Linked DNA regions of Homo sapiens. The protein of the gene in region 3 purifies or fractionates together with the protein of the main gene of each other region. This does not show direct contact. Each region holds a gene or a part of one and is shown on either strand. Other genes may lie near its edges. The genes, in order: PPFIBP1, LNPEP, CEP152, WDR62, NIN, IGF2BP2 and CPSF6.

Region 1 (3,500 bases), on a different chromosome or scaffold from region 3:
TAAATGCAAAAAGAAAGGGAAAAATTCTCTTTTAAAGAATTTCTGTCATAGTTTGAGTTTCAAGCTTTCTTATATACTAATAAAGCATTGCTTTAGGAAAGGAAGTCTTTTTTTTTTTTAAGACAGGGTCTAATTCTCTTACCCACGCTGGCGTTGCAGTGGTATAATCAGGGCTCACTGCAGCCTCCATCTCCCAGGCTCAGACGGATCCTCCTACCTCAGCCTCCTGAGTAGCTGGGACCACCAGCGTGCACCCACCATGCCTGGCTAATTTATTATTATTTTTGTAGAGACAGGGTCTTCCTATGTTGCCCAGGCTGGTCTTGATCTCCTGGGCTCAAGTGATTCTTCTGCCTTGGCCTCCCAAAGTGCTGGGATTATAGGCATTGGCCACTATACTTGGCCAGAAAAGGAAGTCTTTATAGTGATATTTATCTCTGTTGATTAGAGTCAGGAAAAAAAAATACACCCAAGAAAAGGAAGAAGCATAACTGAAAAAGAACCCTTGGCTTTAGTTACACAAGGGGAACCGTCATGGAGAGAAAAGGAAGGAATACAGAAAAAGCCTAAGAAGTAAATGAGGCTGGATTTTAAGGCTTTTCCTGCAGGCTCCAAGAAAAATGGCTCTTAGTTTCGACACATGGACAGTCCCATGCCTGGGAAGTGCATGCTTATAAACCTCAATCTTAAAACACTACCTCATCAGATGGCCGCCTCCGTAGACAGTTTGGTTCAAAGTTATTGATCCTCAGGACCTGGATGGCCCTTTTGATACTGAGATGGTGTAGCACACTTACAACCTTCAGAGACAGTAAGTCATCCTGCAAAAAAGAACAAAAGGAGGAGCTCACTGTGCTGGCCTGTAGCAGGAGGACTTTCTTAGGGAATCTCAGAAAACTGGAGTAAAAGGAGAAGAGCCCCTCAAACCAATATGCCCCAAGGTCTTGTCAGAACCCACTTTCCCATTTGGAACAAAATCTTCCCCCAAACCCCAGATTAGTATTTTTTGCCAATGAAGCTGACTTCCACCTGTTTCTCTCTCTTCCAGATGCTCTGAGATCTGTAGAACCCCAGGGCTCTGAAAAACACAGTTAGAAAAGCACTTGCTGGGTCACTACAAAAGGTGATCTGCTTTGACTTGATCTGCACATACTACAAACAGGGAATTTATTTGTTTCCTCTTTAGTTTTGAGAACTTTATCGGTGGATAAAGTACTTAGGCTTTGGATAAACTGCCCTCTCTGTTTCCTTTCAGCAGATAGTGAAGAGCGAATGATGCTCATTGGTGAACATGATCAAGAGTTGGCTTTCTTTTTTCATCTTTTTTTTTTTTGGAGAGATAGGATCTCACTATACTGCCCAGGCTATCTCAAACTCCTAGGCTCAAGCAGTCCCCCGGCCTCAGCCGCCCAAAAAGCTGGGATTACAGGCGTGAGGCACCGCTCCTAGCAAGGCTGGGTTTTCTGAACTAAGGCACATCATAATTTTGGGGAAAATCAGAACAGTGCTCTTATTATACTATTCCCTGACCTTAATAATTCTCTAGTTCTAAATTATTTTTTAGTAAGGACCTGTCTGCTATTGAATAGCTCTAGATTATTATGGTTTATCTAGCAGACATTGTGAACAATTTTGGCACAACTATAATCAATCAGTGCAAAGGTTTTGGTCAGAGTCAAGGAGAGAAGAAAAATGAAGTTATAAGTATCACATATATATATTACCAATCAACCCCTTCAAGGAAGAATTTTCACCAGTCTGTGGCTCTTGGGAATATTTTCAAATATACCAAACACACCAAAACAAATTATTTCAGAAGAAGGTGATATTGGGAGCAGTATGAAGATAAGCAACAGTCTACTTCCAAACACACCCAGAAAATAAACAAGGAAAGCATCCATTTTAGACACACCTTTCTGATAAAACACTTCTCATGAAAGAAAGAAAAAAATGTAATCTACTACAGAAATATTTAATAAAAATATTAATCAGTTTAAATCCTTGAGGCTACTAACCAGGCAAAAATTATTTCCTGAAGTTTTTCTGGAGTAATTCCTTAAAAGTAGTGTCTTAAGACATGTTAGAAAGAGTACTTATTTTAATCTAGGATTGAGACACCCATTCCAAACATTTCAGTCTGGACTCTTTTCATCTAACTAGTCTGTCAGCTTAAAAAAATATCTGAATGCACAATGTTTACAGTGTGATTAAAATGTTAATTATTTTTGAAATTCTTTATACTTCGAAGGATTTTAAAAAGAAAGTTTTATTTTATATCAAAACAGACTTTCTGAGTGATTTTCTTCCCAATTTTTTTAAAACTTTTTATTTTAAAATAATTTTAAATTTGTGGAGGAGTTGCCAAAGATAGAATAGAATTCTGTATACCTTTCACTCAGCCTCCTCTAATGTTAACATCTGACATAATCATGATTACATTCATCAAGACTAAGAAATTAATGTACAATTGACTAAATTGCAGACTTTATTCACATTTCACCAGTTTGTCCAGTAAGGTCCTTCTTCTGTTCCAGGATCTAATCCACATTAAAACACATATTTTGTGACTTAGGATTTCTGGGGTCAAATTTTCCAGGGTCATTTACTCTTTTATAGCCATTTCACAGATGCTTCTTGTGATTTTAAGCTTGAATTTGTTCACATTCTCAGGGGGAACATACTCACACTTAGAGAGGGAGGCAAATATTTACTGAATGTGTTCTAGTCATAATCGTGAGCTATTAAAAGCAGGGATCTTGAAACAGCCTGAGTTCAAACTCTCTATGACTTTCTATTGCTAACTGTGGAAACTTGGTTACCAAGTTACCCAACCTCTCGATTCCTTCCTTTATACATGTAAAAAAGTAGGGATAATAATAGTATTATAATACTATAGATACACAGAGTGTGTGTGTGTGTGTATATGGATACACACACACATATATACAAACATGCATATATGTGTATGTGTGTGTATATATATATATACATACTCTATGTATCTACAGTATTACATATGTGTGTATAATACTATGTATATACAGTATTACATAATTATATAGTATATATGTGAACAAATTCAAGCTTAAAATCACAAGCAGCGTATGTGAAATGGCTATAAAAGAGTAAATGACCCTGGAAAATTTGACCCCAGAAGTCGTAAGTCACAAAATGTGTGTTTTAATGTAGTGTCCTAGATTAGATCCTGGAACAGAAGGAGGACCTTACTGGAAAAACTGGTGAAATGTGAATAGTCTTCAGTTTAGTTGATTGTATTAACATCTACGTTAATTTCTTAATTTTGATGAATGTAATCATGATTACGTAAGATGTTAACGTTAGAGGAAGCTGAGTGAAAGGTATACAGAATTCTAGCTTTGGCAACTCCTCTGTAAATCTAAAATTATCTTAAAATAAAAAGTTTTAAAAACTTTTTAATATATATTATACACACTATAATAATATTAGTAATATTAACTAAAAGGGTTATTGAGAATCCA
Region 2 (3,500 bases), on a different chromosome or scaffold from region 3:
AGGCATTATAGAAGGAGAACTAAAGGCAAGAACTTTCAAGTTCCCATTGCAATTATACATTTGTGTTCAATCCCAGATCTCACGCAAGAATTGAAATGCAGGGCCAGTATGCCATTTATTTTAAAAGTATTACATAGAGGGAAAATAAAATAAAAATTATTTATCTGAATAGAATTATGGATCTTGCTTGGTCTCTTTCTCCATTTAAGAAGGATCAAAAAGTTTCCTTTAGATGTAGAATACTCATTTCTAACTATTTCTCTTAATATGTCAACATACATTAGCCAAATGGTCAGCATCAGTAATTCACATATTGTTTTACAGAGTAATATGAGAGAATGTTCCAATTGCATAAAGCAGATGTCGTGAGGATTTTGTGCACAAGACAACTGATATCACTGCTACTTAAGAATAACCTCCATACTGTGTGAACTCCATCTTCCCAGAATTTCAAACTACATGCTATGAATGCTAAGATTAAAGTACTAAATATATAGTCCAAATAGGGAGCTGAATAATTTTATATTTTGTCTCACCTTTTTTTCTGAACCAAATTAAGTCTCTCCTAGACCTTAAAAAAAATTTACACCAGAAATCCAAAATAGACTGGCATTTTAAAAAATAATAAACCAGTAAAGATTAAGGATATTAAAAATGATATATGTAAGCACACCACACTTCACACTTCTTCATGCCCTCTTTCTGTATTTCACTAAGTACCTCCTAAAAGTTCTGCACATTAGGAAAATAGGTCTTAAAGAATAACTCCTCTTTACTCTGCTTCCCAACAGACTTCATGAGGTGACAGAAAACTAGATTCACCTTAAAAATGTGAAAAACTCAAGATAACAAGTTTTGGATATAATCTTTATCCATCCTTTTCCACCAGCACACCCCTATCTCCACCCCACCATGATATATGCTCAAGGCGTTGACTAAGAGAGATAATATATTGTTCTAAATCACCATTCTACTATTTTGTATATAACTTCCTAAATTAAAAAAAAAAATCACAATTCGTGTCTCTGGTGTGGACAAAGGGATCTATATTGCAGAAGTTATCAGAGCGTAAAACCAGAATCATTTAAGAGGGCTACCTACTTTTTCTCATTACTTTCATCTGTGTAGGAGAAGCCATAAAACCCATAATAAGAACTAGATATATTTGCCGAGTACTCTATCTTCAACGTATAATTGTGCCCTGCTAGAAGGGCTTCGGGGGCAACAATGGCGATCTGTCCATGATATGCATATTCCAGGATCTCAGCTTGTTTTTCTTGGCTTGAAACTGCTGACATAAAGGTCACTCTTGAAATATTATGACCTGTGCTATGAAGAATGATATTCCATGTGACCTGAAGAGCCTGAACTGAAATTGTCACAGAACCCCTGAATGTCATCGAGGTTAGGTTCGGGTGTAGGCTGAGTTCATAGCGTAGTGGCACAACGGCAGTGGGAAGCCTGATCTGTGCCCATGGAAACAATTTCCCATTTGTTGCAAATGGCTGAATTAGTCCAATTGACTGGTTTTTTTTATGGCAGCCTTCTTTGGTAAAGGTACATCTGGGCAGTAAGTAAATCACCATGATTACAGAAACAGCAACCACGATGACAAAAGCACAGACCACCATGGTCCTTGCAGAGGGTACTGAACAAGCCCCATCTGGGCTCTGCCTGTAACCAGTTGCACTGTTCCGAAGGCCTGAGCTTCTATTCATGAAGGACATGCCCAGCAGCTTTGCTGATGACTCATAATCCTCTTCATCCTCCTCCATCTCATGCTCACCAAGACCCCGCACCAGCAGTCGGGAACCCCGGGGCTCATATTCCACCTCATCAGGCTCTAGAGGATGTAAACAAGGCTCTTTGGCTAAATCCACCACATCTGGTTCTTCCTCAAACATGCTGTTTTCAATCATATTCCTGGGGAGCTGAAGCCGATCTAAAAAACCAAAACATAAGAACAAGGCACAGAGTTAGAAAAAAAAAAGCTCATAATATTAATAACATGTCTTCTACCTAGACCACATTTAAACTAAGAATTTTTTTAAGTCACTAAGACTTATTTCCATCTCAGAGCTACTGAATTAAATAAGATGTTTATACCATTGAGTCATCCATTAAAAACTAAAACATAAATAAAAGTATACCACAGTTATGAAACAAGAAAGCTAAATAAACAGGCTATTATATTTTTAAAAAGTTAGCTGAGATAATATACTAATTTCCTTAATATACTCCTGCCCCACAACCTGGGACCCTGCCCTGGGCTTGAGAGGGCACTGTTTTGGCATTCCTCTGACTATGTCTGTCCCCACCAGGCGAGGAGTCAGTAGGATCAAAGGGATGTGCCCACCTACAGTCCACGGTTCCCCTTCTAGGGTTTGGGCACTGCAATCCCAGAATTTCTGTCCAACAGGCCTCAAATCTGCTTCCAAGGTATTTGTGGGTCTCATCCCTGAGTCTCATTCTCTCTAGGGAGCACCACAAGCTGGTATGCCCATTTCTAAGATTGAGTATGGCTAAGCAACAGGATGGGTTATTGTTTTCCCCTGAAAGAGGAATGTTTCTGTCCCACAGCAAATGGGAAGCAGCAAATTATATGGGAAATTTCCATAAGCAAGAAATGATTTTTAAAAAGATCAAAAGACAATAAAAGTCAGATAAAATTATAATTCAATCTGTTTTTCATGCTTCCATGGCTTTCAGAAGTACAACATATTTCCATGGGAAACAACCATACTGCACACCATGAGTGTTAGTGGATCTCAGTGGGAGCTTTTACAAACTACAACAAACCACACCTTCCGATTTGCCAAAATCACTGAGAAAAAAGACTCTAGAAGTAGAAGGGTCGATAATCCCCCATATATCAGTACTTCCTAGGATTAGATCGTTCAATGTTTTTTATTTAAAATTCATACAATTTTAGTTTTTAAGGGATCTCAAAAGTTATCAAATTGAAACCTCCACTAATCTTCCCTACAAGGGAAGATACTTTATACCTATCATTTCTAACCCTTACAACAATCCTATAAAATGGCAAGTATTCTATTTTAGACATGAGAAAATAGAAAAAGAGAAATAGATTAATTCGTCTTCATAAAGTCACACAGCTATTTAGTCATAAAACTGATATTAAAGCACAGGTCTAAAAATTTGATTCAAAAGTTTATGCTCTTTTCATTATATTGCATCCCTCTACTCAAACTAATTCAATAAAAGATGAGAGCCCTGAATTATTTATTTCATACCTGGCAATGAAGTTGCTAAGAGTATTATTTCACCATCAGGAGAGCAAAGCTTACAAAAAACTACTGAATATCTAGCTTAAGATAAATGCTATGTATTTTGTGCTATTCAACAAACACTGTAATGGTGGAAACTCTTCATCCATAAAACATATTATTGATAAATATTAGGATAAAATTTGCAGTTTTGCTGTTCAGTGTGGCCTGTGACCCTGCAGCATTTGCATCACATTGCAGCTTGTTAGAAAC
Region 3 (3,500 bases):
TGTCTCACCACTGGTAATAATCAATTGAAGGTGGGATCTGTCATCTCCATTGTAAACTTACTATTTTTTGTTTTATAATAAATGATAAGTATCTTATAGGATACTTTGAGACAATACAAATATCCTATTTCTCATCATATGTTCTCCTACTAAGATCAAGCATTTATTCTATTTCTGTATGTATTCATTTATGTCAGCATTCACTCACGGACATATATTTTATTCAATACATACAATTTTTAAGACTCATGATAGACTTTGGCGAATTGCCTTCCAGAAATGTCATCCAAATGTATACTGTCAGGTAGTACATGGGTCTGCCCATCTCTCTTTGCCTCCAATGGCAGTGATTATCTTTAAATAATTATCTTTGATGGGAAAAGAATATCTAACAATTGCTTTCATTTGTATTTCTTGTGTCACCACCAAAGTGGAACCTCTTATATACCTTCATTGTTCATTTGTTTTTCCACCTTCCCAGATTTATCTGTTCATTTAACTTTGCATATTTTCCTCTGAGAGTTTTCCTTATCTACTTTTCTTTTTATTCATTGATGGGGGTTACAAAGATTTTAAAAATATATCTACTCCGTTTCACTTGTTGTGTACCTGGACTCTGAGCTCTTTGCCACAACACAGTGGCTCATCCTTGTAATCCGAGCACTTTGGGAGGTGGAGGTGGGCAGATCACTTGAGTCCACAGCTGAAGTAACTTTGAGAAAAATTGGAGTTTAGATGTACACTACCGAGAATTCACTATGGCAATAGAGTAGCTGGACAAAAAGAATACTCAAAGATGAGATAGTTATTCCTTTGATCTATTGATCAACCAGACTACAGAGGAAAATGGGAAGGCTAAAAAACAGTACAATGCATGACCACTATCTACTGCTACACATGATAAAGTGTATCTGTATAGCAAATGCCATTAGCAAGTTTAATACAGAACAAAGAAAGCACCAAGATATCTGAGCTAAGGTTCAGACTCAAAATCAGGTTTCTAGTATCCTAAATCCTAGAGCACTCCCACCAAAATGCTTAAACTAATAAACTCTAATGTCTTAATGCAAATTGAGAAACAAGCTTTCATTCCCATCCTTTTAAAGAAATGTAGGGCAACAATGAAAACAGCTTGATTTAAAGATGTTAAATGTGCAGGGGGCAGGGCGGGGAGGAGTCTCTCTCATTTGCTGTTAATATTAAAATCTATGTTTTAGTCATCAAATGTAGTTACTCAGAAGAGGGAATCAGGCTGGAAAAGATTTTGATAGCAAAAACACTGTTTTTCCAAAATATAAAAATTAACCACAATCAAAATTCCACAATAATTAGCACAGAATATTATACATACTTTAGCAGAACTGTTCTAATGAACACAACTCCTAGTTTAAATAGGAGATAAAACAGTACTAAAGAAGGAAGTAAACAATTATCTCCACCCAGGAGGAAAAGGAGTATACTACCCACATTCCTTTTCCCTCTTCTTTTGCTTTTCTTAGTTATTAGGTGTTTTATATATTATTTTCTATTGGGAGTATAGATGGCTGATGATTTGTGAAATATGGAAGGGTAAAAAAAAGGATCTATAAAGGAGAGCAGCCCTAAAGATCTCTGTGATAGCATGATCTTACAGAAATATCTTTGACTTACTTATTAGTCATGTGTTTAGTTTCAATTTGTCTGAAATTGGCTCTGTAAATTCAAAAGTGTCACAAAGTGCTCCAGCTTCATTTTCCGAACTGAAGAATACAGAGGTGGATTTCAATGACTGACAAAACCAGATTTTGTGTACTTTCCCATAGTACCACGACCACTATATAATATCTGTACCATCATCACTATATAATTAATGTCCTCATATAGAATGACTTTTGTTGTAAGAACATGGGCCAGGAAAATCTCATAGAAAATACTACAGGATTTCTATGGAGGATTTATTTTAACTAGATTTTAGAGCACTATTGGTAAAAGCCAATCTTAAAGAAATGCAGATTCCTTGTTACAGAGAATACTTCCTTGTATTTATGGTAAAGGAATTTTACCTAATTGGTATCTCATTTACTAGGTGCCAAGAGTAACCAGAAAAAACATACAGATGCTTTTCAACTTACAATGGGTTTATCACCTAATAAAATCATTATAAGTTGAAAATATCATTAAGTCAAAAATGCATTTAATGCATCTAACCTATTAAAACCATAGCTTAGCCTGGCCTACCTTAAATGTGCTCAGAACACTTATAATAGCCAACAGTTATGCAAAGTCATCTAATGCAAAGCTTCATTTATAATAAACTGTTGAATATCTCATGAAATTTATTGAACACTGTACTGAAAGTAAAAAACAGAACTGTTTTACAGGTACTTGAAATATGGTTTCTACTGAATGCACATAACTTTTCCACCACTGTAAAGTCTAAAAATTGTAAGTCAAACCATCCTAAGTCAGGGACTGTCAGTATCCCTTTAAAAATGGCATTTCCTTCTTTAAACTTTATTTCTAAAAATGTCAAATAAACTCCTGAAAGCCAAAGGTTTATTAATTTAAAAACATGTAAAAGGGCTGGATGTGGTTAGTCACACCTGTAATCCAACACCTTGAGAGATTGAGGTGGGAGGATTGCTTGAGCCCAGGAGTTTGAGACCAGCCTGGGCAACATTGTGGGAACCTGTCTCTACAAAAAATTTAAAAATTAGCCAGGCATAGTGGCGTGCGCCTGTGGTCCCAGCTACTCAGGAGGCTGAGGTGGGAGCATCGCTTTAGCCTGGGAGGTTGAGGCTACAGGGAGCCATGTTTCCACCACTGCCCTCCAGCCTGGAAGACAGAGTGACGCCCTGTCTCAAAAAAAAAAAAGTGTAAAAGTTTTCTTTATTGAGCCTTTTAAAAATGGTTTTTTAACTCTATAGGCTTTACATACCTCAACCTCAATGCTTTTTTCATCCTTCTTCACTTGGTGGAGATCTTCAATTTTCTTATGACAGTCTTTGAGGTCATTTTGTAACTGAGACACCAGATGACGCTTCATTGAGTTGCTACCCAGCAAACGCTGTACTTCTGCCTTTAACTTCAGAATGAACTCATCTTTTGAAAGCTCTTCATTTGGGTCTTCTTCTTGTACAATGCTAATGGAGAAATTGTGATTTTTAACATTAAATCAAGTAATAAATCAGACATGGTTATTCCCTAAAAGCACTGACCACAGTGGTGAACATGTTTTGTCACCTATACAATTATATACTAGTATTTCAAAACAATTTTAAATGTTGTCATACACAAGGATTATCACCTTTGCCATGTCTCTATATACAGAAATACGTTTATTCACAGGAAGAGCCTTCTCAAGCTTAGTCCTGCTGCTCACTGTAAGTAGCTTAGAAATGTGAACTTTGACATAATTTACATTTGTGTTATTGGAAAACTGCATGCTGTATATACATGCCCTTTATGACTCTAACAGAAACAACATAAATATTAAGGAAGAAAAGAATACTAAACACTAG
Region 4 (3,500 bases), on a different chromosome or scaffold from region 3:
TTCTTGGGGACCAGAGGAACAGAGGGAGGAAAGCAGACAGCCTAGGACAAGGCAGACCAGGCCAGCTAAGGGTCCAGGGCCACCCCTTACCTCACATTGCGGTCCTGGCAGGCCACGGCCACGTACTTCTGGGTGATGTCAATGTCCATGTCATACAAGGTGGTTTTCTCTGCTACGTGGTGGGTACGGACAAAGTGTAGTCCATCCGAACCCTGGCAGGGCCGGCAGGACCTTCAGAGAATGCCCCGACAACCCCCCACCCCAGCCCCCAAGGAGGCCATGCCACCCTACCTGCTGGGCACTGCGAAAGTAGATGCTCTTGTCAGCCCCACAGCTGATCATCTGGATGTCTCTGTTGCCTAGGGGAGGAGGACGCTGTGTGTTAGGCAGGGCTGGGCCACATGGGCAGGGGACCCTAGCTGGGGAACTCCACTGCAAGAGCCATCAATCAACTGTGCTGGGATCAAGGCTTCCTAAAGGTGGTGAGGTGGGTGCTGGGTCTGGGTGGGACTCTGTAAGGTATGAGCTGTACGTGTGAGGGGGCACAGGTGGAGCTGTGGCCAAGGCAGGCTCTGCAGAGCAAGGGCATATAGAGAAACAAAGGCTGGGGACAAAGAAGGGACACCCTCTCCAGTCTGGGATTGAGATAGGTGACTTGAGTAGCGGAGTAGAGGCAGGACTGCAGCAGCGACCAGTGGAGACAGGCTGGGAGGCTCGTGCCATCAGGATCAACTGCAAGATCCACATGAGCCTTGGGCCAGGCCCCATGCATGTAGCGGGTCTTCCTGAATGCTCACCACCCATCCCACTGGACAAGCATGAACACAGAGGTTCACAGAGTCCTTGTCCCAAGGCACACAGAGAGGACAGGGGCAGGACTGAACCCAGGCATTCTCTGGTGCCAAGGTCAAAGCTGTTAAACACTGCTCTGAACCTGGGCCTCCCCTTTGAGCCTCAACTTCCGGTCCGTACAATGGGCATGGTGACAGTTCCTTCTCTGGAGAGTGATGTGAAGCCCTTGGAACAGGGACTGCCACATGGTAAGCATTAGAAACATTCTTGCTTTTATTATTCTCATTTCTTTTTTTTTGAGACAGAGTTTCGCTCTTGTTGCCCAGGCTGGAGTGCAATGGCGTGAGATGCCCCCGGCCGTCTCATTTCTTTACAGAATAACAGTTTGGTGAGGATGAAATGACAGAACAAATATAAAACTCTGAGTCTGGGCACATCACACATGCTCCTTCATGACAGGACATTTGAGAGGGTCCAGGCCTGACATACAAGTATTAGATGTTGCTCAAGGAGGAGTCATTGGCTCACAGAAGGGAGTGAGCCCCATATAAGGGAGGAAGGGTAACCTGGGAGGGACCCAGAGAAGGCCTGCAAGCCTCTGGTAATGTTCTGCTTCTTAACCTGCACGTGGTGAATCCAAGTACCGTATTTAACAATATTACGACCATGAGCAATTAGAACAGTCTCTGCTATCAACAACGTCCTAGTTCAAACCTTGCTCCTAAGAACTGTGGATACTCACTTCGGCCACCACGCCCAGCTTATTTTTTATTTTTATTTTTTTTGAGATGGAGTTTTGCTCTTGTTACCCAGACTGGAGTGCAGTGAAACAATTTTGGCTCACTGCAACCTTGGCCTCCTGGATTCAAGCTATTCTCCTGCCTCAGCCTCCCAAGTAGCTGGGATTACAGGTGTGCACCACCATGCCCGGTTACTTTTTTTGAATTTTTAGTAGAGACGGGGTTTCACTATGTTGGCCAGGCTGGTCTTAAACTCCTAGCTTCAGGTGATCTGCCTGCCTCAGCCTCCCAAAGTGCTGGGATGACAAGCATGAGCCACCACGCCCGGCCTATATTCTTCTTTTTTTTTTTTTTGAGACAAAGTCTCGCATTGTCACCCAAGCTGGAGTGGAGTCACTGGCGCAATCTTGGCTCACTGCAACCTCCGCCTCCCGGGTTCACACAATTCTCCTGCCTCAGCCTCCCGAGTAGCTGGGATTACAGGTGCACACCACCATGCCTGGCTAATTTTTTTGTATTTTTAGTAGAGATGGGGTTTCACTATGTTGGCCAGACTGGTCTCGAACTCCTGACCTCATGATCTACCTGCCTTGGCCTCCCAAAGTGCTGAGATTACAGGTGTGAGCCATGGTACCTGGCCATTATTCTTTTTTTTTTGAGACAGGGTCTCACTCTGTTGCCTAGGCTGGAGTGCAGCCTCCACCTCCCAGGTTCAAGCAATTCTCCCACCTCGGCCTCCTGAGTAGCTGGGATTACAGAAACAACACCCCGCCCAGCAAATTTTTGTATTTTTAGTAGAGACGGGGTTTCACCATGTTGTCTAGGAAGGTCCCGAACTCCTGACCTCAGGTGATCCACCCTCCTTGGCCTCCCAAAGTGTTGGGATTACAGGTGTGAGCCATTACACCCGGCCCCAGTCATTATTCTGTATACTGTACACAGATACTGTATTCACTTGTTTGGATATATATTTTACAGGAGAGTTGAAAGAATGAATCCTTTTTTAGCAGGGTAGCTAGCAAGGCGCAGGGAGCGGGAAGAAAGGGGCTCACCAGCGAACTTGATGGCGGTGATGGAGGAGGAGTGGTCATCCAGCGTCTGCTCCAGGTTGTAGTTCTTCTCCACGTTCAGCACATGGATCAGCCGGTCCCGACTGGCTGAGGCCAGCAAGGTCAGCCCTGTGAGAGGAGAGAATGAGACTGGTTCCTGAAGGCTGCGTGGGTGCCCTGGCCTCCCAGAAGGGCAGTGTGACCAAGCTGCCCAGTCCTCGGAGAAGGGGTCTTTGGTTCTTCAACTGTAGCCAACTTGGCCCAAGCCTGGCAAGGGCCACTCCCTTAGCTCTGTGTGGTCTTTCCCAGAGCCCCCACACCCTGGCATTTCACCTCCTCACCACCAGCTCAGGGAGGATGAGTCTCGATGGGCGCATGGACGCTCCTCCAGGGACATCCACAGCAGACGCCCCAGCAGAGCCCAGCGCTCTTGCCTGCTGGGTCTGTGCTGGGTAAAGCCCTGGCAACCTCTCAGCCTCTTCCAAAACCAGTGTCCTCTCACCCTCTGAGGTCTGGCTACCTGGGCCTTGTTCAGGTCCTATTGACTGCCTGTGGCCAGACTCCCATCTGCCACCAGCCTTCCCTACTCTGGTCACTTGCTATGTCTGAGGCCTAATAACATGACCTGAGGCAGAGGGGAGATCAGGAGAGGCGAACCGAGTGAAGATATGTTTCAAGACAAGTTGGTGGGGCACACAGCATGGGGGATGAGAGAACGAAAGAAGAACATGGGGAAAATCACATCAGGATATAACTCCACCAACTCTGTAACTCCCAAAGTGCTGGGATTACAGGCATGAGCCACCGTGCCCAGCCTAGAAAACATCTTGAGGAGCCGGGCATGGTGGTTCACGCTTGTAATCCCAGCATTTTGGGAGGCCAAGGCGGGTGGATCACCTGACGTCAGGAGTTTGAGACC
Region 5 (3,500 bases), on a different chromosome or scaffold from region 3:
GGTTAGGCTTTAAAAGCTGAAGTAAAAGAATTTTAGTCTTTGCAAAAATGTCTTAGGAAAATGTAAGTATACGTCTTACCACATTTCTTCCTGAGATCCATTTAATGTCCCTAATTTCAGGTTAGAAATGCTATCTTCTTCATTTAAAGTAGTAATTTCATTTCTCAAAATAGAATTTTCCTGTTGAAGCTTTTCAGATTCATATCTGAAGCACAGAGATTGAAAAAAATTGTTACAAGGCAGTCATCTGGCATCTTTGGAAAATATTTTCTAGTAACTTCCAAAAGGATGAGTATTCAATGCCAGTTAAAAAGAAAAGTCTAAATTAGTAGTCTCTTAGTATTTGGAAATCGAGTTATGACATATTGACACATTTCTTTTGGGAAGTAAGAATTTCACTAAAAGATGTTAGAGAAGTGTAGCTAAAAAACCCTTAAGCCTGGAGAAATGAATCAAGACTCAATGCTCATTCTGGTTGTTGATTTTTCTCAATGGCAAGCATACTGCTTTGAGCAAATGTCTTCATTTATCTCAGTCTCAAGTCCTACCTGTTCTGAATACACATAAGCCATGTTACAAAGCTATATTAGCTTAGTTTTAGGCCCCTGGGTACCTAGGGAAAGAAAATTCTCTATTGAAATCAAAGGGCCACAATGAAATATGTACACTGTTTACTTTGTGATTTTATTCATCTCATTATATTCTGATTTTTAGGACTAAAAATGGTCTGAAGAAGAGGAAAAACTACATTCAGAATTAAATTATTTCAGAGACATTTCAGACGTCCTGTAATAGTTTACAAGTTTTTTTTTTTTTTGAAAAACCAAATTTGCTAGAAGACTATGCAATTATATTTTACAATGTCAAGTGGGCAGTGGTTCAAATTAATTCTACTTGTATCTCTGCTTTTCAAGCATATTTATTAGAATCTGGAGGCTCCTCAAATTATATGTTCTAAGATAAATTTCCACTGTTTGTTTTGTCTCTTTTTTTTTTTTTTTTTTTTTTTTTTTTTTAAAAGAGACAGGGTCTCACTCTGTCACCCAGTCTGGAGTACAATGGCATGATCATGGCTCACTGCAGCTTTGACCTCTCAAGCTCAAGCAACCCTCCCACCTCGGCCTCCCAAGTAGCTGGGACCACAGGTGTGCACCACCACGCCCAGCAAACATTTTTTTATTTTTCTGTAGAGGCAGTCTTGCTATGTTCCCTAGGCTTGCCTGGAAACTCCTGGCCTCAAGAAATCCTCTTGCCTTGGCCTCCCAAACAGTTGAGATTGCAGGCATTTAAGCCATGGTGCCTGACCATTTGCACTGTTTATGGGTTATCAGCATGTGCTTCAAGTGATATGAGTACAAAACTATAAAGACAGAACATTTTTTCTATATTAGCATAAGAAGTGAGTTCTTATCTACTAAGTTAATAATACACAAAAAATCATTCATTTGTATATAACATGTTTCCTCAAAATGAGGAAAGTAACACTTAGCAAAATAAAAAAAAAAAATCCCCTATCCATCTAAATGAAATAAGTGCTAGAAAAAAGTTAAAGAGGTACATTGAGGATGCACATGGTTAAACAGCAAACACTCGCCATTGTGAACTTTCACACCCCATATGAACACTTGTTTGCTACAGCGGAAGGGAATGCCTCCTAAACAAGGTTATTTTATTTGTTAATACGGCACAGAAGCAGAAGGAAGTCTAGAGAGTACTGCTCTCTTCGTGAAGACTACTAGGTTAGTTTCTCTAGGCACGGCAAGCAGTGGAAGTTAGATCTGGTGAGGTGCTCTGTGGGATTCGTGACGTCTAGAAGGTACATACATTACCTCAGAAGTTCAACTTTTTGCTGCATCTCACTGCACGTGATCTGCAAGTCATGCATCATTGCCTTCAGCTCTTCCTCCTTTTCTCCGTGAGAAAGTACATCTTTTTGCTTAACTAAAATAGTGACTCTCTCCTTCAACTTCCTAGTCAGCTCCTGTAACTTTGTTTTCTCCAGTTCTAACTCTGCTATGGTGGCCTGATGCTGAAAATGTTTGTCTTGAAAGCCTAGGAGAGTAGTGTTTTCCTCCAGTATAACTTGATTCTGTACTCTTGGCCTTTCTTGATGTGTCTGAATTGTTCCATGTAACCAGGCAATTTCATGTGCTTTTACTTTTTCCAAGAGCTGTGTGTTCCCCTCAAGGTACTGGTTTTCTTGCTTACATTCCTCTATGACATGATGTACACTCCTAACCCTGGGCACACACTCTTCCAGTGTCTGATTGAGCTGGAGTATATTTCCATCAGGTTCGATTTCCAGGTTCTCTAAACTGGCTTCCCATAAGCAGCAGTCACACCGCTGGACCACGCTTTCCTGAAGCTTCTCAATCTTGCCTTGAAGTCTCAAAACCAGAACATTCAGCCCCTCATTTTCTATTTTGACCTCATCGTAACTCTTTTCCAGGCTGAGGAATGTTTCAGTGACTTCCTCCATTTTCTTCAGCTCATCCTGCAACCTGAAAACCTCTGCAGTGAGTTCTTTGTTATTTTCTAGTGCCTCATCGTAGCGTGTCTCCATCATTCTCAGCTCTTCCTGAAGGCAGTCATTTTCTCGGCTCACATCTTCATACAACAGCTTATATTTGGGAGAAGCCTCAGGGATTCTCTCAAGCATCTTCAGTTTCTTTTTTAGCACAGAAACATCAAAAAGTAGGTCCTGTTTCTTTTCAGAAGCTCGATCACAGTCCGCACATAACATCATTAGCTGTTCCTGAAGCTGACTAATCTGATTCTTCAGCTCCCAGGATTCAGTCCTGGTCTCTTCACTGTTTTCAAGCTCAGAAAAACCCTCTACTGAAGCTTCAGACTCCTCTATTTTGACTTCCTGTCTCTGAACAGAGCTCGTCCCTGTACTTCCCAGGTCCCGGACCTCATCATCTTCCAGGTCACTTAGGACATGCCGCCTGGTCACACCTTCTACTTGCTTCGTTCGGTTTTGCTGTAAAAACTGCTCTGTTTGTTCCGCAGTATTTCCAAAAAACTCAGTAGCTGGCTCATCCAAACAAGAAGACATTACTAACCCTGGCTCTAACTTTTGTAGCCTCTGTTGCAATCTAGAAATTTCAGTAGCCATTTTCACATTTTCCTTCACTGCCTGTTCATGAGCTCTCTGCAGGCTTAAGAGGACGTCCCCATTTTCTTCCAACAGCTGCTCCCCTTGCTGAAGCAGGGACAGGGCTCCATCTCCTTCCACCTCCTCCTCTCCTATCACCTGGCAACCACTCTGAAGCATTGAGAGAGGAGATGTTGCCTGCTGCATTTCCTTTATTTTACTCTGAAGTCTGGAGATTTCTGTGCTCATCTCGGCTCTTTCTCGATCTGCTGTCTCACAGGTCGCTTTGTGAATGTTCTCCATGGCTAGAAGCTTGGACATCATTTCCTGCCTTTCCTGGTCATGTTCCATTTCTAGTCTTTCCAGCCGCTGGCTGGCCAGCTGCTCCGAAGCCCCTGCCTGG
Region 6 (3,500 bases), on a different chromosome or scaffold from region 3:
CCCGATAATTCTGACGATCACTTCCTCATTTTCATCTGGCGTTTGGTCACGAGGCACGATGACTTCTGCACTGGTTAAGTTCTGCAGTTCGTTCACCTGTGAAGGGAGAAACGGCAACGGGTTGGATAGGTTCCCTCCCCGTCAACGTGGTGGGCTCAGGACGGAGTGAGGGGCCAAGAGGTGGAGCAGGGGAAGGAGGGGGGCTGGACTCTGCTCTCCTTTCCTTTTATCAAGGACACCCCGGGGGCTCCTCTGCCCCTGAGCACATGGGGCCATGTTGGTTGGGCCCTGACAGGCTCAATGACAGGGAGAGGGAGTCCAGCCACAGATTCCTGGGGCTGCTTCTGAGGCGAAGTTCTCTTATTCTGGAGTTCCCATCAACGCAGGCCTGCACATGCTCACAGAGACCCCAGGCTTTCCCATACCCCCCCACTCCCCACCCCTACCCTGTAAGATCATTCCTCCTGGACATGCTGTCCTGGGTGCTGACCACGAGCCCAAACCTCCTCTTGGTTAACTTTCCCTGCGAATCAGCCCTGCTGTTCCCTCCTCCTCGTTTTCACTCCTGCCGCCAAGACTTGCTCATGCTGTTCCTACCCTTGGATTGTTGTCCTCTCTCCCGGCCACTGGATCCCACCCCAGGCCCACCTCCATGAAGCCTCCAGCCCATGCTGAGCTCCTCGTGTCTCCAACCACTGCCTGCATTGTTCATCCTCCCCGCTGCCTCACTGGGCCTGCTTCCCAACAGGACTGCACGCTTCCTGAGGGCTCAGACCCCGTCCTCTGGCCCTCTGGCCTGATGCCGAGCTCACAGGCGGGTTCAGCATGTGCTTTAGGGGAAACCTGAAAGTCTGGAGGATGCAGAGAATTCAGTGACTGGTTCTGAAATAGCTAAACAGGACACCCAGGGGCTCAGGATTCTACTCCCTGCTGATCCATCTGCTTTCTTTTGCCTCCTACATTCCAGCTCCGCCTAAAGCGCAGTGTGTGCCCTGGAGCGCCGACTGCATTCTGGAGACGGGGAATCCTTTGATTCCACACCGCTTCGTTCTTTCGTATAAAGCTGACTCATTACATCTAGAACTTGGTTTTGAATTCCGTTTAAGAGTTTCTATGTAAAGAGCTTTACAACAGCTGGGTGTGGTGGCTCACGCCTGTAATCCCAGCACTTTGGGAGGCCGAGGCGGGCGGATCACCTGAGGTCGGGAGTTCGAGACCAGCCTGACCTGACCAAAATGGTGAAACCCCGTCTATACTAAAAATATAAAAAATTAGCTGGGCATGGTGGCGGGCGCCTGCAGTCCCAGCTACTCAGGAGGCCGAGGAAGGAGAATCACCTGAACCAGGGAGGTGGAGGTTGCAGTGAGCACAGATGGCACCACTGCACTCCAGCCTGGGTGACAAGAGCGAAACTCTGTCTCAAAAAAAAAAAAAAAAAAGCTTTACAAAAACAGCAAATAACACACATATACATATATACACATACACACTCAGGACTCAAGAGACCCCCGCCTCCCCGCCAAGTTCCTGCCACCCAACACTGCTACTTTGCCAGCAAGCCTGCACTAGGCTCTACTGGAACTTCTCAGTGGTCATCTCCCCACCCAGGTCAGTAAGTCACATTCCAGAACATACCTGGGTCTACAGACCACCTGGCTCATTCCAACAAGCTTCAAAGTTAACGCTCTGGCACTTTTCAAACTACACTGTGTTTGTTCCTGCACCTTCCAGTAGAAAATGCAGATGATCTTTCAAAAAACAATCTCCTCCTTGCCCACCCTCCTACTGCTAAACTAGCTCCCCTAGAGCCATGTTTGGGAAACAGCCAGAAGATAGAGCCTGTGGAGGGGGAGTTAGGGACTGGAGGCATCTGTCAGGAGGGCTGAGAGTCAGAAGAGAGTGCAGGGCACAGGCCTGAGTGAAATCCAGGGAAGGTGGTGGTCTGCCAAGTGGGTTAGCATCTCTCTCGGTGGGAATCCCCCCTTTCCAATTTTAATGGCTGCTACATGTGGGTATAAAGGGGGCAGAAGACAGCCTCTCTGTTTTCAGGGAGTGGAGGCCTTCACTGACCATGGAGTCAAGATGGGTATTACTGGGCACAGGACTGTGGTATTTTTGGTGCTGGGCTTACAGCACCACGGATTGGGGGCCCTAAGTTGTGGAGTGAAGCCGATGACATTTTTGTCCTTGGGATCCTCATGCCTCAAAGGGCTCAGATGCCAGGAGAGCCTTAGTTTATCTGCCAAAGACCCTGACTGTACATTGGGACAGAAGGCGCCAAGGGGAGACTGAGGGAACTCAGGCAAGGCCAGAGCGGGGAATCTGACCCAGGTGATGAAGCGAGCCCGGAGCACACTTACGGTCTTGCCACCTTTGCCAATCACCCGGCCAGCTGTGGAAGAGGGCACTCTGATATGCGCTTCCAGCTTCACTTCTTCTTTGGGGTTAAAGAAGTTTTCCTCTTTCAGTTTCCCAAAGATCCGTCCCTGGGCCTGAGAGAGCAAGACATGACTAATGACTCTCAGTCAGCCAGCAGCCGGCCACTTCATCAGTGCTGCGAAGGGCACTGGAGAGTCCAGACAATGGGTCAGTCCCATTCCCACACTCCCTGGGACACACAGGAAGCTGCGTGCCCCAGCCTCCGCTCACAGACCTGGGGGGCGCTGCTCCCGCCACGTCAGATGGCTGCACTTTGAAAAATGTGGATGGGCATTCATGTTTTGGTGGTTTGCACAAGACTGCCTCCTCTAGGGAGCTTTCTGTGTGTCAGGGCTAAGGGGATGGGTGAGGGGATGCAACTCTATGTCTTATTTCCATATTATCACCTATAAAGATTTGCTTGATTGACTGAATTTGTTCAGGGGATTCTTATCCCATCACCACAGGGTCATACCCCTGGTTAGTAAGGATGGAGGTGATGGTGGTGGTAATGGGATTTGAGGAGCCTGATATTGTTTTAATTAAAAAAATTTCTAATGGAGAACAGGGTCTTGCTCTGTGCCCAGGTTGGAGTGCAGTGGCACGATCATAGCTCATGTTTTCATTCTTTTTTTTTTTTTTTTTTAGAGATGAGGTCTATGTTGCCCAGGTTGGTCTTGAACTCACGGCCTCAAGTGATCCTCCCACCTTGGCCTCCCAAAATGCTGGGATTACTGGTGTAAGCCACTACATTCAACATAATCTTTCTTTTTGATGTCTAACTCCAAAGGCAGAGGAGCCAAGAACCTATCTTTCTTTTTTTTTTTTAGTGAAAAAGAACCACAGCTTACAATGTTCTTTTTTTTTCTTTACTTAAAATACTGAGATATAACTTACATAATCTGAGAGTCACCGTTTTAAAGTATACACTTCAGTCCAGGCGTGGTGGCTCACACCTCTAATCCCAGCACTTTGGAAGGTCGAGGTGGACAGATTGTTTGAGGCCAGGAGTTCAAGATCAGCCTGGTCATCATGGTGAAAACCCATCTCTACTAAAAATACAAAAATTAGCCAGGTGTGGG
Region 7 (3,500 bases), on a different chromosome or scaffold from region 3:
GTCACTCAGGCTGGAGTACAGTGGCCTGATCTCAGCTCACTGCAGCCTCTGCCCCCCAGGTTCAAGCAATTCTCCTGCCTCAGCCTCTGAAGTAGCTGGAATTACAGGTGTGCACTATCATACCTGGCTAAATTTTGTATTTTTAGTAGAGACAGGGGTTTCGCCATGTTGGCCAGGCAGGTCTCAAACTCCTGACCTCAAGTGATCCGCCTACTTCAGCCTCCCAAACTGCTGGAATTATAGGCATGAGCCACCGCACCTGGCCTACACTTCCATTTTAAAGCTGGGTGGTCAGATTACTAAATTTGTGCTATCGGTGATGGCCTGACAGAGCAGAAACTAAATTCCACATTAAGAGTTTCTGACTCCCAAACAAGCAACAAAACATACTACTTCAATGCAAGCAGTGTAAGTTTCCCTAAAGTTCACAGAATTTTTTTGACTTTCCTCTCCAGATCAACAAAACTTTACACATAAAACATAAAAGAATGGTAACTACAATATAGGACCTGTCAGTGTGCTATAATTATAGTAGTCCCCTCTTATCTGAGAGGGATATGTTCCAAGACCCCCAGTGGATGCCTAAAGCCACGGAAAGCAAGGAACCCTAAATATACTATGTTTTTCTTTATATATACCTACGATAAAGTTTAATTTATAAAGTAGGCACTGTAAAAAATAACTAATAAAAGAGAACAATTTAGTCATGCATGACAATGTTTTGGTCCAGGTGGTCAGATTATAATGGAGCTGAAAAATTACTATTGTTTAGCGATCTTAGCCCAATGCATTCCTCACGTTTGGGCTCGTAATGCTGGTGTGAACAAACCTACTGTGCTCTCAGTCATATAAAAGAATAGCACATACAATTATGTACAGTACACAATACTTGACAATAAGCGACTGTGTTACTGGTTTATGTATTTATTATACTATACTTTTTTGTTTTTACACTTTTTTTTTTTTTTTTTTAAATAGAGACGGAGTTTCGACATGTTGGCCAAGCTGGTCTCGAACTCCTGGCCTCAAGCAATCTGCCGCCTCAGGCTCTCAAAGCACTGGGATTACAGGTGTGAACCACCACACCAAGGCCAACTATACCATACTTTTAATCATTATGTTAGAGTGTACTCTTCCTACTTCAAAAAGTTAACTGTAAAACAGCCTCAGGCAAGTCAGTCCTTCACCACGTATTACAGAAGAAGGCAGTTATCCTAGGAGATGACAGCCCATGCATCATACTGCCCCTGAAGACCTTTCCAGTGGGACAAGATGCAGAGATGGAAGACAGTGATATTGATAATCCTGACCCTGTGCAGGCCTAGGTTAATGTGTGTATATCTTAGTTTTTAAAAAAAGCTTAAAAAAAAAAAGACCAGGTTCAGTCGTTCATGCCTGTAATTCCAGCCTCCTTTGGGAGGCTGAGGCAAGAGGATCACATGAGGCCAGGAGTTTGAGACCTGTGCAACACAGTAAGACCTTGTCTCTTCTAAAATAAAATTAATTTTAAAAGTTAAAAAAAAAAATTTAATAGAAAAAAGTTTAGGCCCAGTGTGGTGACTCATGCCTGTAATCCCAGCGCTTTGGGAAGCCAAGGCAAGAGGATCACTTGAGGTCACGAGTTCGAGACCAGCCTGGCCAACATGTGAAACCTCGTCTCTTACTAAAAATACAATAATTAGGCAGGCATGGTGGTGAGTGCCTGTAATCCCAGCTGAGGCAGGAGAACTGCTTGAACCCAGGAGGCAGAGGTTGCGGTGAGCCAAGATCGCGCCACTGCACTTCAGCCTGGGTGACAAAGCGAGACTCCATCTCAAAACAAAACAAAACAAAAAAAAGAAGTAAGTTTACAGTATAAGGATATAAAGAAAATATTTTATATAGTTACACAATGTGTTTGTATTTTAAACTGTTATTATTGAAGAGTCCAAATTTATAAAGTAAAAACGGGCCAGTCACAGTGGCTCACGCCTGTAATCCCAACACTGGTAGGTCAAAGCAAGAAGACAGCTTGAGCCCAGGAGCTGGAGACTAGCTGGGACCTCATCCCTACAAAAAAAATTTGAAATTAGCCAGGCATGGTGGCACATGCCTGTAGTCTCAGCTGCTCTGGAGACTAAGACAGGAGGACTGCTTGAGCCTGGGAGATAAAGGCTGCAGTGAGCCACAACTGCACCACCGCACTCCAGACTGGATGACAGTGAGAAAATAATCAATCAAGTGAAAACATTACAGTAAGCTCATGTATTATTGAAGAAAAAAGTTTAAATAAATTTAGTGTAGCCTGAGTGTACTGTACAGTGTTTATGAAGTCTACAGCAGCATGTCCCAGATCTTCACATTCACCCACCACTCACTTGCTGACTCTCCCAGAGCAACTTCCAATCATGCAGGTTCCTTTCATGAGTGCCCTACACAAGTGTGCCACTTTTTATCTTTTATATCAAGATTTTCACTTACCTTTTCTGTTTAGATATATTAGATACACAAATACCACTGTGTTACAACTGCCTACAGTATTCAGTACAGTAATATGTTGTACAAGTTTGTAGCCTAGGAGCAACAGGCTACACCATATAGCCTACATGTGTAGTAGGCTGTACCTTCCAGGTTTGAAATGCAAAAGCACTCTATGATCACAAATGACAAAAGCACCTAAGATGGACTTCTCAGAACATACCGCCATCGTGAAGCGACACATGATTGTAGAACAGTTTACTGTCATAAAAGTTAGCTAAATATAGTATCTCTCAAACTACCTTATTGTATGTAATATTTTCAGACCTCAGAACCACGGGTAACTGAAACCACAGAAAGTGGAACTGTGGATACGTGTGCACTACTGTATGTAGGTATCTCTCAGCTCCCCTACAGTGTACTCTAAGGGTAGAGACTACCTAAACTTTGTATCCCTCGTTGTTGGCACATAACAGACACTCAACAAATGTATTTTGAACAATTCAATCTTTTTTTTTTGAGACAGGGTCTTGCTGGAGTGCAGTGGCCCGATCTTGGCTCACTGCAACCTCTGCCTCCCAGGTTCAAGCGATTCTCCTGCTTAGCTTACTGATTAGCTGGGATTACAGGCAGGCACCACCATACTCGGCCAATTTTTGTATTTTGATAGAGATGGGGTTTCACCATGTTGGCCAGGCTGGTCTGCAACTCCTGACCTCAAGCGATCTGCCCACCTTGGCCTCCCAAAGTGCTGGGATTACAGGCATGAGCCACCACACTCGCGCTAAACAATTCAACTTTTAAATTATTTAGTTTTGGCCAGAATTTTAAAATCTACAATTACTAAATATTGGGCTAGTAATTACTACACTTGAGTATAAATGCAGTTTAAACTGAATTGATATGCTACTGTGAGACAGAATCACTTTCTTCTCAACTTCAAGTAATAGAGAGGTTTGGAAGATGTTCAAATTCCCCTTCCAGCTGTTCTCAGCTTGGTGACATCCAAAGACCTCTAAGAACTAAAGAGAACCCATAAGGAG

Evidence for each region.
Region 1: the proteins of CEP152 (region 3) and PPFIBP1 purify together in Homo sapiens (co-immunoprecipitation; one large-scale study listed by IntAct). This does not show direct contact.
Region 2: the proteins of CEP152 (region 3) and LNPEP purify together in Homo sapiens (co-immunoprecipitation; one large-scale study listed by IntAct). This does not show direct contact.
Region 4: the proteins of CEP152 (region 3) and WDR62 purify together in Homo sapiens (co-immunoprecipitation; one large-scale study listed by IntAct). This does not show direct contact.
Region 5: the proteins of CEP152 (region 3) and NIN purify together in Homo sapiens (co-immunoprecipitation; one large-scale study listed by IntAct). This does not show direct contact.
Region 6: the proteins of CEP152 (region 3) and IGF2BP2 purify together in Homo sapiens (co-immunoprecipitation; one large-scale study listed by IntAct). This does not show direct contact.
Region 7: the proteins of CEP152 (region 3) and CPSF6 purify together in Homo sapiens (co-immunoprecipitation; one large-scale study listed by IntAct). This does not show direct contact.

The regions. Positions count from the first base shown.
Region 1 is NC_000012.12:27,684,706-27,688,205, reverse strand, and holds part of PPFIBP1 (liprin-beta-1), read right to left. Parts: intron 822-3,500; coding exon 699-821; intron 1-698. UniProt on the Homo sapiens protein: May regulate the disassembly of focal adhesions. Did not bind receptor-like tyrosine phosphatases type 2A.
Region 2 is NC_000005.10:96,977,580-96,981,079, reverse strand, and holds part of LNPEP (leucyl-cystinyl aminopeptidase), read right to left. Parts: intron 1,943-3,500; coding exon 1,102-1,942; intron 1-1,101. UniProt on the Homo sapiens protein: Release of an N-terminal amino acid, cleaves before cysteine, leucine as well as other amino acids. Degrades peptide hormones such as oxytocin, vasopressin and angiotensin III, and plays a role in maintaining homeostasis during pregnancy.
Region 3 is NC_000015.10:48,769,570-48,773,069, forward strand, and holds part of CEP152 (centrosomal protein of 152 kDa), read right to left. Parts: intron 3,123-3,500; coding exon 2,918-3,122; intron 1,721-2,917; exon of another isoform or gene 1,651-1,720; intron 604-1,650; exon of another isoform or gene 1-603. UniProt on the Homo sapiens protein: Necessary for centrosome duplication; the function also seems to involve CEP63, CDK5RAP2 and WDR62 through a stepwise assembled complex at the centrosome that recruits CDK2 required for centriole duplication.
Region 4 is NC_000019.10:36,085,897-36,089,396, reverse strand, and holds part of WDR62 (WD repeat-containing protein 62), read right to left. Parts: intron 2,711-3,500; coding exon 2,585-2,710; intron 360-2,584; coding exon 292-359; intron 213-291; coding exon 91-212; intron 1-90. UniProt on the Homo sapiens protein: Required for cerebral cortical development. Plays a role in neuronal proliferation and migration.
Region 5 is NC_000014.9:50,754,663-50,758,162, forward strand, and holds part of NIN (ninein), read right to left. Parts: coding exon 1,830-3,500; intron 206-1,829; coding exon 80-205; intron 1-79. UniProt on the Homo sapiens protein: Centrosomal protein required in the positioning and anchorage of the microtubule minus-end in epithelial cells. May also act as a centrosome maturation factor.
Region 6 is NC_000003.12:185,647,043-185,650,542, forward strand, and holds part of IGF2BP2 (insulin-like growth factor 2 mRNA-binding protein 2), read right to left. Parts: intron 2,493-3,500; coding exon 2,361-2,492; intron 97-2,360; coding exon 1-96.
Region 7 is NC_000012.12:69,242,569-69,246,068, reverse strand, and holds part of CPSF6 (cleavage and polyadenylation specificity factor subunit 6), read right to left. Parts: intron 1-3,500. UniProt on the Homo sapiens protein: Component of the cleavage factor Im (CFIm) complex that functions as an activator of the pre-mRNA 3'-end cleavage and polyadenylation processing required for the maturation of pre-mRNA into functional mRNAs.